Homo sapiens: one gene and its partners. The protein of the gene in region 2 purifies or fractionates together with the protein of the main gene of each other region. This does not show direct contact. Each region holds a gene or a part of one and is shown on either strand. Other genes may lie near its edges. The genes, in order: PCDHGB1, PKP4 and INAVA.

What was found.
Region 1: the proteins of PKP4 (region 2) and PCDHGB1 purify together in Homo sapiens (co-immunoprecipitation; one large-scale study listed by IntAct). This does not show direct contact.
Region 3: the proteins of PKP4 (region 2) and INAVA purify together in Homo sapiens (co-immunoprecipitation; one large-scale study listed by IntAct). This does not show direct contact.

The regions. Positions count from the first base shown.
Region 1 is NC_000005.10:141,352,969-141,356,618, reverse strand, and holds part of PCDHGB1 (protocadherin gamma-B1 isoform 1 precursor), read right to left. Parts: intron 1,599-3,650; exon of another isoform or gene 1,512-1,598; coding exon of another isoform or gene 1-1,511. Other genes in the region: PCDHGA4 (protocadherin gamma-A4 isoform 1 precursor), read right to left, coding at 1-1,511. UniProt on the Homo sapiens protein: Potential calcium-dependent cell-adhesion protein. May be involved in the establishment and maintenance of specific neuronal connections in the brain.
Region 2 is NC_000002.12:158,662,852-158,666,501, forward strand, and holds part of PKP4 (plakophilin-4), read left to right. Parts: intron 1-45; coding exon 46-237; intron 238-420; coding exon 421-594; intron 595-2,996; exon of another isoform or gene 2,997-3,230; intron 3,231-3,561; coding exon 3,562-3,650. UniProt on the Homo sapiens protein: Plays a role as a regulator of Rho activity during cytokinesis. May play a role in junctional plaques.
Region 3 is NC_000001.11:200,897,819-200,901,468, forward strand, and holds part of INAVA (innate immunity activator protein), read left to right. Parts: intron 1-488; coding exon of another isoform or gene 489-582; coding exon 583-637; intron 638-1,654; coding exon 1,655-1,779; intron 1,780-2,285; coding exon 2,286-2,402; intron 2,403-3,118; coding exon 3,119-3,341; intron 3,342-3,650. UniProt on the Homo sapiens protein: Expressed in peripheral macrophages and intestinal myeloid-derived cells, is required for optimal PRR (pattern recognition receptor)-induced signaling, cytokine secretion, and bacterial clearance.

The DNA of each region.
Region 1 (3,650 bases), on a different chromosome or scaffold from region 2:
GATAAGATGGAGGCTCCTCTGGGGTTGTTTTCAGGAATGTAAGCAGAGTAGGAAGCATGAGGGAAAGTGGGTGGGTTGTCATTGATGTCCATCACTTGCAGTGAAATATGAGTTTCTGTAGACAGTGGAGGAGTTCCCTGGTCAGTGGCAGTTACAGTGATGTTATATTCTGAGACTTCTTCCCTGTCCAGTGTTCTGTGTGTCAACAACCGATAATAATTTCCATAGGTCTTTTCAAGTGTGAATGGCAGATTATCTGGAATAGAACATGTGACTAGGCCATTTCCTCCTGAGTCACTGTCATGCACGTTGAAAAGTGCAATTACTGTACCCGGGGAAGAAGATTCCTGGACTGAGCTGGTGAGAGATGTAACTGTGACTTCTGGTGCGTTGTCATTTTCATCCAGAACTGTCACCAGTACCTTGCTTCTAGCTCGGAGACCAGGCCCATCATGGGCTTCTACATCTATGTCATAGAATCCAGAGTCCTCATAATCTAGACCCCCCAATATTGTTATATCCCCACTCAGAGAATTCAACTGAAATAGCTGTGATATTTTGTCTCTTACTTTCCGGAAAGAATACGTCACGTCTCCATTGGCTCCTTCATCTGGATCAGTGGCTTTTACGGTGAGTAGCCGAGTGCCTACAGGAACGTTCTCACGAACACTTACGTGGTACTCGGGCTGAGTGAACACGGGAGCATTATCGTTGGTATCCACAAGTATTATGAGAATCCTGGCAGTGCCAGAGCGAACCGGGTCACCTCCATCGAAGGCCGTGAGAACGAGGTGGTGAACCGCCTCTTCCTCGCGATCTAGAGCGCGTTCCAGCACCAGCTCTGGGTACTTAATCCCATCGGCCCCACTTTGCACGTCCAGGGAAAAGTAACCGTTTGAGTTGAGCTGGTAACCCTGCAGGGAGTTTACACCTACATCCGGATCAAAAGCTTCAGGAAGAGGAAATCTTGCCCCAGGATTTTCATTTTCAGCAACTTTTATTTCCCTCTGTTCTGTCCCAAAACTGGGTGGGTTATCATTAACATCGATTATTTCCACCTCTACCCGCAAAATCTTCACTGTATCTTCTAGAAGAATCTCCAGGTTTGTCACACAGTTTGGAGATCTGTCGCAGAGCTCCTCCCTGTCTATCCTACCCGCGGTGACCAAGGTGCCGCTGCGCGGGTTCAGGGCGAAAAGCTGCGTCCTACCTCTGGAGACGATGCGGACTCCGCGCTCCGCCAGCTCCCGGGGCGCCAACCCCAGGTCCTTGGCGATGTTGCCCACCACTGAGCCTTCTTCCTGCTCCTCAAACACCGAGTAGAGAATCTGTTCGGCCCTGATTTCCACCAGAACCCCCAGGAGAAGGCAGATCTGGAGCAGCCGGGTGTGGTCTGGGCGAGCAGGAGGCGCCGCCATTACAACCCCGCCGCGGAGTCGCCTGTGCTTCGGTTTTCCCTCTGTCGAGGCCTGAGGAGCCCCAGGATCTTCTGGGTCCAAAATAAAGTGCATTCACAGCCAGAGCTCTCAGGGCTTCCGCTTGAAGCTTTCATAAAGCTCCAGAGCCAGTGCTTTGTGCTGCAGAAATCTTGTGATTCTGATTAAATTTCTGGTTTGTCTTTTCCCCCTGATTGGTGAACAGCGACACCCAGAGTCTTAACCTGTTACTGCAATTTATTCTTGGTTAAAAAAAGTTTATTTTTTATACACTTTTCTATTCCTATTTCTCCCAAGATAATAAAGTCAAATTCCTGTTTTTGATTTGCAATGAAAATTCAAGAATGATCCAAGTCTTCCTGTACAATAAACTTTATGAAGTTATTTATTTTCTTAGAGAAAATATGACGATTTTTTTCCTAAGATGTGTTCTTCCTCTTTTCAGTTTTCACATTGTTCATCCCCACAGCCCATTCTCAGTATAGCGTATTGTGTGAGGGACATAATTATCTCTCCTAAAGACAAAGGTGGACTTGAAAAATGGATGAGACAGATAAGTGAAAAGACAGTGGGACAGGAACTTGGAGGTCTGGCTTTAGTCCCAATTTATGCAGTAACAAGTTTCCTCACAGGAGTTGACCCTCTAGAACCTGGGGCAATGCTTCAATTCCCTTGCAAAAAACTCACCTACTGTTCAAGAGTTAGCCTTACCCTGTACAAATGAGATTGACAAATAGGATAATAGGTTTGGGAAGAGAATTTGCTCCTTAATTTTGTGTACAGTAGATTCTTGGCCACAAGCTATGCATATGACTATCTTGTTCACAATGTGTTCTCAATCTTTAGAACAATACCTTTCATAGAGTAGTAATTTTTATGAAACCTTTCAATGTTTCATGAATGACCAGTTCAAATGCAAAGCCTAAAACAATGGGTAAATAACTCTGATCTTAAAAATAAAAAAGAAATAAAAAGAAAAGTTAGACTGAATAACTATAAAGTGCAGATAATAGTTTAGTGATTTTTTCACATGACACATTCAGTATTATTTTACAATTTCTAACTTTACTTTAGCTCTCATTTTAGAAATAGCCAGTAAAAGGAAATGTTTTGGTAGCCGAACATGGATTATCATTGCATGTGCCATCGCTTTCTTTCTTATGAATACTTACAGTAATTTACTAATCTGTGAAAATTTGAGATAAAGCAGTACATCAGTTCTTAAGCTTATTCCTCACTTAACAATTAGCAGTAGAAATGACTCATACAAAAGGGCATTAGCTATACAGAATTTAAAAACCCTCAGACTTTGAGAGAGTAGATTAAACGTGTTTTTCACAATCCTCAAAGACCGCACAAACTGCGGATGATTGAGAGGTGAAATAAGATGTTTGGAAATAAATTTGACAGTATGCATTAAAAAAATCTCAACATGTTTATAGATTTAACTAATTCCTCAGAAATCTACACTAAAGAAACAAGAAGTATGGAAAACGCTTTATAAACCCAAATGTTCATTACATTCTTTGTTTTAATAGAGACAAAATAGAAAGAGCATAAAAACAAATAATTTAGGAATGGTTAAGAAAATTATGAAATATCATTGACTGAAATTATAGAGTGGGAATAATATTGACTCAAAGTTAGTGATGCAAATATAAAATTGGACAATATTTGCTACTTGTGATGAGACAAAGTGTTAAGAGTCTTAATAATTGGAAGGCTGTATTAAACATACATGTTGCTGCAAAAAGACAAACTAGAATGTAATTGATGAAGATTACATTAATTACATAATTACATTAATACATAATTACATCAATTACATAATTAATGTAATTGATGAACTTTAACTTGGGTGGGAAGAACTCTAAATACATTTATAAAGAGCTAAGAATAAAATGACTTGAAAATATAGTATTGCATATCAACTAAGAAAAGGCACTGCTATTACTAAGTGTTAACATCTAGGAAACAGGTCTCTTTAGCAAGATTTGCCAACCATACAGAAATGCCAACAGTAAAGATTGAAAATTAAATTGCCAAGACTACTGAGCAATCAAGAAAGCAATCTCCATCTATCTAGTACCCCCTCCCGCAGTAGATACCATCACTAGAACAATGAAAGAAAATCAAAATTACTTATACACCAATGAGAAGAAAATGCAATATATAATTTTTGTTTGTTTGTTTTTTTAGACAGTTTCCCTCCCA
Region 2 (3,650 bases):
TAATGTGCCGAGTTGTTTTTAATTATACGCCATGCTGGGTTTCAGACGGTGGAGAACTGCGTGTGCACCCTGAGGAACCTGTCCTATCGGCTGGAGCTGGAGGTGCCCCAGGCCCGGTTACTGGGACTGAACGAATTGGATGACTTACTAGGAAAAGAGTCTCCCAGCAAAGACTCTGAGCCAAGTTGCTGGGGGAAGAAGAAGAAAAAGAAAAAGAGGACTCCGCAAGAAGATCAAGTTAGCATTTTATTTTATATGAGACTCTCAAGTTTAATTTTTCTGGGAGTGAGGAATCACATATTTGGCAAGAAAATAAATTTTCTGCATAGCTATAGCTGAGTCCCGCAAAGGTGAATGTTTTCAAGTATTGGAGATCATGTTCATTCTGCCTCCATTTAACGTGTGCTGTTTGTCTTTCAGTGGGATGGAGTTGGTCCTATCCCAGGACTGTCGAAGTCCCCCAAAGGGGTTGAGATGCTGTGGCACCCATCGGTGGTAAAACCATATCTGACTCTTCTAGCAGAAAGTTCCAACCCAGCCACCTTGGAAGGCTCTGCAGGGTCTCTCCAGAACCTCTCTGCTGGCAACTGGAAGGTAGGATGACTTCCACTTATCTACACTTCTTTCCATCTTTGCAAACTAACTTGAAATGTTATATATATATGTTCTGCCTCAGTCAGATCAGCCCTGATGGTGAAAGGGTCACAGCTACTTAGCTTGTGTGTGAAGGGGTTAAAGGGAAAAAAGGGAGACAAGCAGTTGCTCTGGGGATACAAAGATAAATACAAGTCCCTCACTATGAGAAACAGAAGGCTAGTGAGAAAAACAGATGGTGCCAGCACAGTGTAGAAGCCACAGGATGTATGTGCTGTGGGGTCCTGAAAGAAGACATCTAACCCAGCCACACAGTGTAAGGGAAGGTCAGGAAAAGAGCGGAGTAAGGACGTGGAGGAGATTTCCTGAAGGGGATGCTGCCCGGCAGAATCTCTGAAGATGAGTGAAAGTAAGCCTGTAGAGGCTGAGGCTGTGGTATGGAAGGAGCCATCCAGATAACAGGGACAACAGGAGGAGGACAGTCTTGTGGTGCAGAGAAGACGTGTGGGCCAGGACTACTGGCTGCCCACTGGGGCCCACCATGGAGCCAGGCATCATGGATAGGCCTGAAGGCCAAACTTCAGGAGCTGAATCCTAACCTACACACAGGAGGGACTACCGAAAGAGTCTGGGCAGATGAGTGACAGAGACGGGCTAATATCATCACTGCTCCCCCACTTCCATGGCAGTGCAAAAGGTGGATTCGAGGAAGGGAGAGTTAGAAGCAGGGATTGGATTTGGGAGCCAGTGCAGCAATACAAAGGTGAGAAATCTTGAGTGGCAGGACAGAACACAGGTTGGGCAGCACTGTGGGGAGGGATAGAGGACCTCTGTTCCTCTCAGACCGTTACAGACATGCCTGTGTCTAAGGTTTCTGCATCTTTTTGCAAATGTATGAGTATGAAAACTGAAGACAGTTTCCTTTTGTTACCACTGTAAGCAAGTTCTCAGAACTTTCTAAATGTCCCCCAGCAACTTCCCAGACAGTCCTTGTCTGAGACATTTTCAACCTCTAGTAATTTCTTGACAGGTGTATTTTAGTAGAGTTACTACAATGCTTGCTGTGGGCTTCTTCCCCCACCTTAACCCCCCAAAATGAGAATCTTTTGGTGATGGTGTTTTCAAGATAGTGAAAAGCATTGATAAGCCTAGGTATGGTTTGTTTCGTGCACGTGGCCACTATGTTGAATATAGAGCGATAACTATGGTCTAGTGCTAAGCCGGTGTGGTTATTTTGTTGTGGCTCCTAGTTAAAGTGCCAGTGACTGAGTGTGTAAGTGCTGGCTCTGAATCCAGGCCACTCTGCTTACCGTCTGGCAGCCTAGGGGCTCTGCCCACAGTTTCCACCTCCCTAAAATAAAGTGAATATTAATACCTGCCTTATAAAGTGGTTATGAGGATTTAGTGAGATACTCCCAGCACATAAGTATTTATAAACATTTATGTTGTAGAACAGCGTTCACCTTCAGCTTCTGTGACCAGAGGATCATTTGATGATAATAAAAGACAGTAATTGAAATCGATGTGATTTGACTTATTTAGAAGTTCATGTCTGGGATCATTTAGTGAGAGAGTTAGATGGCAAAGCTCATTTAAAATATAAACATTATATCTAAGCGATTTCAATAGTGAGTTAAAATATTGGACCTTCACTAAGAAAATGAGATAATCGTGGCCACAGATGTTATCAAGTAAGAAGCTATTTCAGGAGCAGTGATGACTGTAGTTCTCCAGAAGGGAGACGGGCTGGGCTGGGCTGGGCTGGTAGGTCTCCAAGTGAGACAGAAGGAGATGGTTCTGTTGTTGCAGGTTTCAGAGAGAAGTTCATAAAACTGCCTGAGTGCTTTGCCTAGTAACCAGTCATGTACTTCATTTTCCCCCCATAGATTTCATGTGATTTGAAAAATAGGAGTATGCATTTCATATGCAGAATATAAATAGGATCTTTGAAATGCATCTTTCCCTCTTATTTGTATTATTAAAATATTCTGTTGGTATTCAAGAAACTGGATGGTCAATCACATATTTTAATGTTCGAAATAATACAAAGGGCTGGTAGATCTCTGTCCTACTGTCTTGGTCACAGCAGGAAAGTATATGTTTTATGAGCAGCATCTTTCAATTACCCTAAAATTTGAAAGATGATTTGCATTGGTTGAAAAAGTCAATTAAAGCTCAAAGCTGGAAACAAGATTAAAGAACCGTTTTCTAACGTTACTCTTTTTGGTTGTTTCACTGATGACTTAGCGCTCATTTCCATTTTATAAGATATACAAACTGACTCACAGTACAGAGTTGCTTCATAGTCACAGAAAAATTTCTTGACTATGGATTTTTAAAAAACAGCATCAGCAGCTAACTAATCTTGAGTGAGAATGCATTTTGCACACAAATATACTTACTTTTTCACCAGGCTGTATGAATTATGATGCTGGATGTTTCTGGAGATTTCCCTTTCTTCTGAGGCAAGGGATTTTTCCAACTAATCTCTTTGACAGGTTTCTGAACTCGAAATATTGTTGCAGGGAATATAGAAAAAAAATGACTTGATGGAGACAGGTTCTCCTTTCATGTGTGCTGATGGGTTACTGTCTCTGCCATCCTATTTATAGCCTCTGGGTTTGGCAGGGGACCAACTGCAAAGAAAACACACGATCCTTCCTTAATCATGTTTATGTATCTGAGATAGAAAGTAATCACTGCCTTCTCTTTTCTGCACAAAAATATCTGGCAGATGGTGGTTTGAGATTTTCAGGCTTTGGGATTTCTTTTTAAATCAGTCATTCCAGCCTATCTTTCTCCCCAACTTTGGTTTTCTCTTCACTGACACCACAGATTTGATCTTCAATTGGAAAGAAACCATTTAATCTATTAGTTCATCTTTTGGAAACATCTTTTTTAGGTGACAGTAACATATGAGACTGGAACTCTGTTTTATGTTACTTCCTGCCTTATTTTTCTCACTAGTTTGCAGCATATATCCGGGCGGCCGTCCGAAAAGAAAAGGGGCTCCCCATCCTTGTGGAGCTTCTGAGAATGGATAACGATAGAGTTGT
Region 3 (3,650 bases), on a different chromosome or scaffold from region 2:
TCTAAGTTGTCCAGGCTGGTCTTGAACTCCTGGGCTCAAGCTATCCTTCTGCCTTGGTCTCCAGAAATGCTGGGATTACAGGCGTGAGCCACCATGCTGGGCTTCCTTCCTCCTTTCTTTGTTATCCCATCCCATTTTTTGTCCCCTTCCTTTTTATCCTGTCTCTGCTCTTTTCCTTCTTGCCCTTCTCCCCAGTCGAGCGGTTCTTGTGGCTACCACAGCTGTCGACCCCCTTAGGCCTAGAGGACTTTGGCCCAGAGGGGAGTTAGGCTGGGCCCCTGAGAGCCCACTGAGAACAGGGTTTGCTGGTGAGGCCCACAGCCCCTTCTCTAGGTCAGCACCCCCAGTGCCAGAATCTCCTGCCCCAGATGGTTCCTGAAGCACAGTCCTCCCTTCCACTCCCCTGCTCTCAAGCATCTATTCAGCTTTTTGTAACCAAGATGGTTCATATCTAGCTTTTTTGTTATTGTTCTCTTTTCTCTTTAAAGCTGGGGAAGCTCCAGGCTACCTACACAACCTGGCCCAGGCTGGTCACGGTGTCCCCCCTCCCTGCTCTGTGCCCTCTCCTTCCAGAAATCCACCATGGAGAGTAAGGATGAGGTCAGCGACACCGACAGTGGCATCATCCTGCAGTCTGGTGAGTGTTCAGGGAAATCCCCCTGCCCTAGTCCCTAGTCCCTGGTCCCTGGTCCCTGGCCCTGACTCCTGAGTCCTGAGCCCTCAGGCACTAGGGCTGGCTGGGCTGAGACTCCCAAGGGCTGAGAGGAAGGGGAGGGAGAGGCCTCTGCTGGGAGGAGGGGGAGGTTCTGGAAGGGCTGGAGCCTCAGGGACATGTGGAGTTTTCCTCCCTGGAGAAAACTGGCTTGGAGTTTTGGTTCTATCTGGAAGAGGGATCTGCAATGTTCAACTTTAGCCCCAGCTGAGAAGTTGAAAAATCTCAGGCAGGCACAGTGGCTCATGCCTGTAATCCCAGCACTTTGGGAGGCCAAGGTGGGCGGATCACAAGGTCAGGAGATCGAGACCATCCTGGCTACCACATAGTCCCAGCTATGTGGGAGGCTGAGGCAGAAGAATCGTTTGAACCTGGGAGGCGGAGGTTGCAGTGAGCCGAGATCGCGGCATTGCACTCCAGCCTGGGCGACAGGGCAAGACTCCGTCTCAAAAAAAATATATCATCTGGCCAATGTGAAGGTCTTGCCTCTCTGTTTGGCCAGACCTGTGGGCCTAGTCTGGCCTAGTCTTGACAGAGGACAAGAAAGAAGAGGCTTATGTGTGTGTGCAAGAGAGAGGGGTAGTGGGGAGAGGGAGAGAGAGAGACAGGAAGAAGAAGGAGAAGGAAAAGAGGAAGAAGAAGGGAGGAGGAGTGGGGGGAGGACTGCACCGGCAGAACTCCCTCCCCTGCACTCCCCCACCATAGGTCACCTGGTGGGACGACCCTCCCTTCTGAGTTGTAACATTTGTGCAGCCAAGAGACGTGGTGTTTTGTGGCTGTGACACAGGCCACAGCAGCCAGCCTGCAATTTGTGGGCAGGCATGAGATGTGTGTGTGTGTGTGCATGTGTGTGCATGTGCATTCCCCTAGGGGTGGTCAATAAGTAACGGAGGAGGCTTCCATCTTCAGCCTCCCTGAGCATGTGCCCCCCAACCCTTGCAGGCCCCGACAGCCCGGTCTCCCCAATGAAGGAGCTGACCCATGCAGTGCACAAGCAGCAGAGGGCCCTGGAAGCGAGGCTGGAGGCCTGCCTGGAGGAGCTGAGGAGACTCTGCCTTCGGGAAGCGGTGAGGCCCCAGCCAGCACACACAAGCATCGGGTTCATCTCAGGAGCTGTGGAGCCACGTGTGGGGATGCGGGAGCTGGGGAGAGGGAGCCCCATTCTTGAGGGAATTCTGGACATCAGGCTGGGGGCTGGGGCCCAGAGTCCCCATGATGCAGTGTTTGACCTTGTGCTGGATGGAGAAGAGTCAGACCCAGGCAGGGGCCCAGGCACAGAGAACAAAGTTCATCAGGGGCTGCAGAGGGACTGCACAGACATAAGTGCATATGAGTGCTGTAACCCGGGTCGGTGTAGCTCTGGAGGAAGTGATCAGAAAGAGGTCTGAAGGGAAAGGGGAGGAGTGCAGAGTGGGTCTGAAGACAGGAGAGACAGTGTGGAGGATGGGATGAGGTGGGGTGGAGGGTGGTCCCACCAGGGCTTCTATGGAAGGCAGGCACATGCAGTGCAGGGGCCAGTGAGCCAAGTCTGGGCAGGTGGAGAGGACCTGGCTGGTCTCTGCTTCCTCCCCAGGAGCTGACGGGCACCTTGCCAGCGGAGTATCCCCTCAAACCAGGGGAAAAGGCCCCCAAGGTTCGCCGCAGGATCGGAGCGGCTTACAAACTGGATGACTGGGCCTTGCACAGAGAGGTGAGGAACCTCAGGAAGCTGCCAGTACCCCTCGATCCCCAAAGCTGATCACTGAGACGCCACACCTCAGCTCAGTACCCTGGCAGGTTCCCTTCCACCCTTTCACACCCAGTGAGGGTGCTTGGCTGCCTGTTGGTGAGAGACACCATGAATATGTAGCCCAAATGGCTGTGGAGAAGGGGCGCCACTAAGGAACCGAGAGCTGGGAGCTCAAGGGAGGACACTGGGTTTGACCCCATTGGGCAGAAGATCAGTTAAGAGCACCAGCCACCAACCCAGCGGGCAATAGCCTGCTCAGACAGGTTACTCTGGCCCCTAGGGCTGTCCTCCTTTCTCAGGAGGAGGTGGGGGCAGTCAGGCCCTGGGTGCCCTTCCCCTGTGGCGTCAATGGCAGCAGTTTCCCATGGGCCAGCCTGCCCCACCCTTTGGGGTCAGGAGGGAAAGTGTCCCACTTGGGTTCCCACCCTGCCCGGTTCAGCAGGTGGGCTGGTGGGTGGGTGCCCATGCCAGCTTTTCAGGCTGACAAGTTTGCTTTTCGGCTCCTCCCACTCCTTCACCCTCTGCTCCACGTCCGTCCATTGGTGCTGCTGTCTGCCTCTCTTCTGTCCTCAGGGCTTAGGACTGGGACCTAGAGCACTGTGTCAGGGCTGCTGTCCACCCTCTGGGCCCCCAATCTCCCTGCCTCTCTCTAGCCTCACTCCTGCCCCCTCTCTCAGGACCCCCTAAGCAGCCTGGAGCGCCAGCTGGCCCTGCAGCTGCAGATCACAGAGGCAGCCCGTCGGCTGTGCCTGGAGGAGAACCTCAGCAGGCAGGCTCGGCGGCAGCGGAAGCACTCCATGCTGCAGGAGGAGAAGAAGCTGCAGGAGCTCCAGCGCTGCCTGGTCGAGCGGCGGCGCAATAGCGAGCCACCTCCGGCTGCTGCTCTCCCCCTGGGCCGAGGTGAGCCGGCTGCCCTGAGGGGGGCCATGCTCCTTAAATGAGCTTTTGAGGGATGGTGGGCGCACAGCCCCGTGCCACTGCCTTTGCATTTGGCTCCAGCTGGGTAAAGCTGATTCTTGGGTTCAGCTCCACCCCATCCTGATTCTCTCCAACTCCAGCAAGGCTTCCCCATCCTGTGAGGTCTTCTTCTCCGTCTCCTTAGAAAACACCCTACTCTCTCCTTCCGTATCCTCCTCAAAATACACTACCTTCAAGAGACTTCCTACACAGAGATATTTCTCAGCTGACCCTGAGCTGAATCCAAGGTGT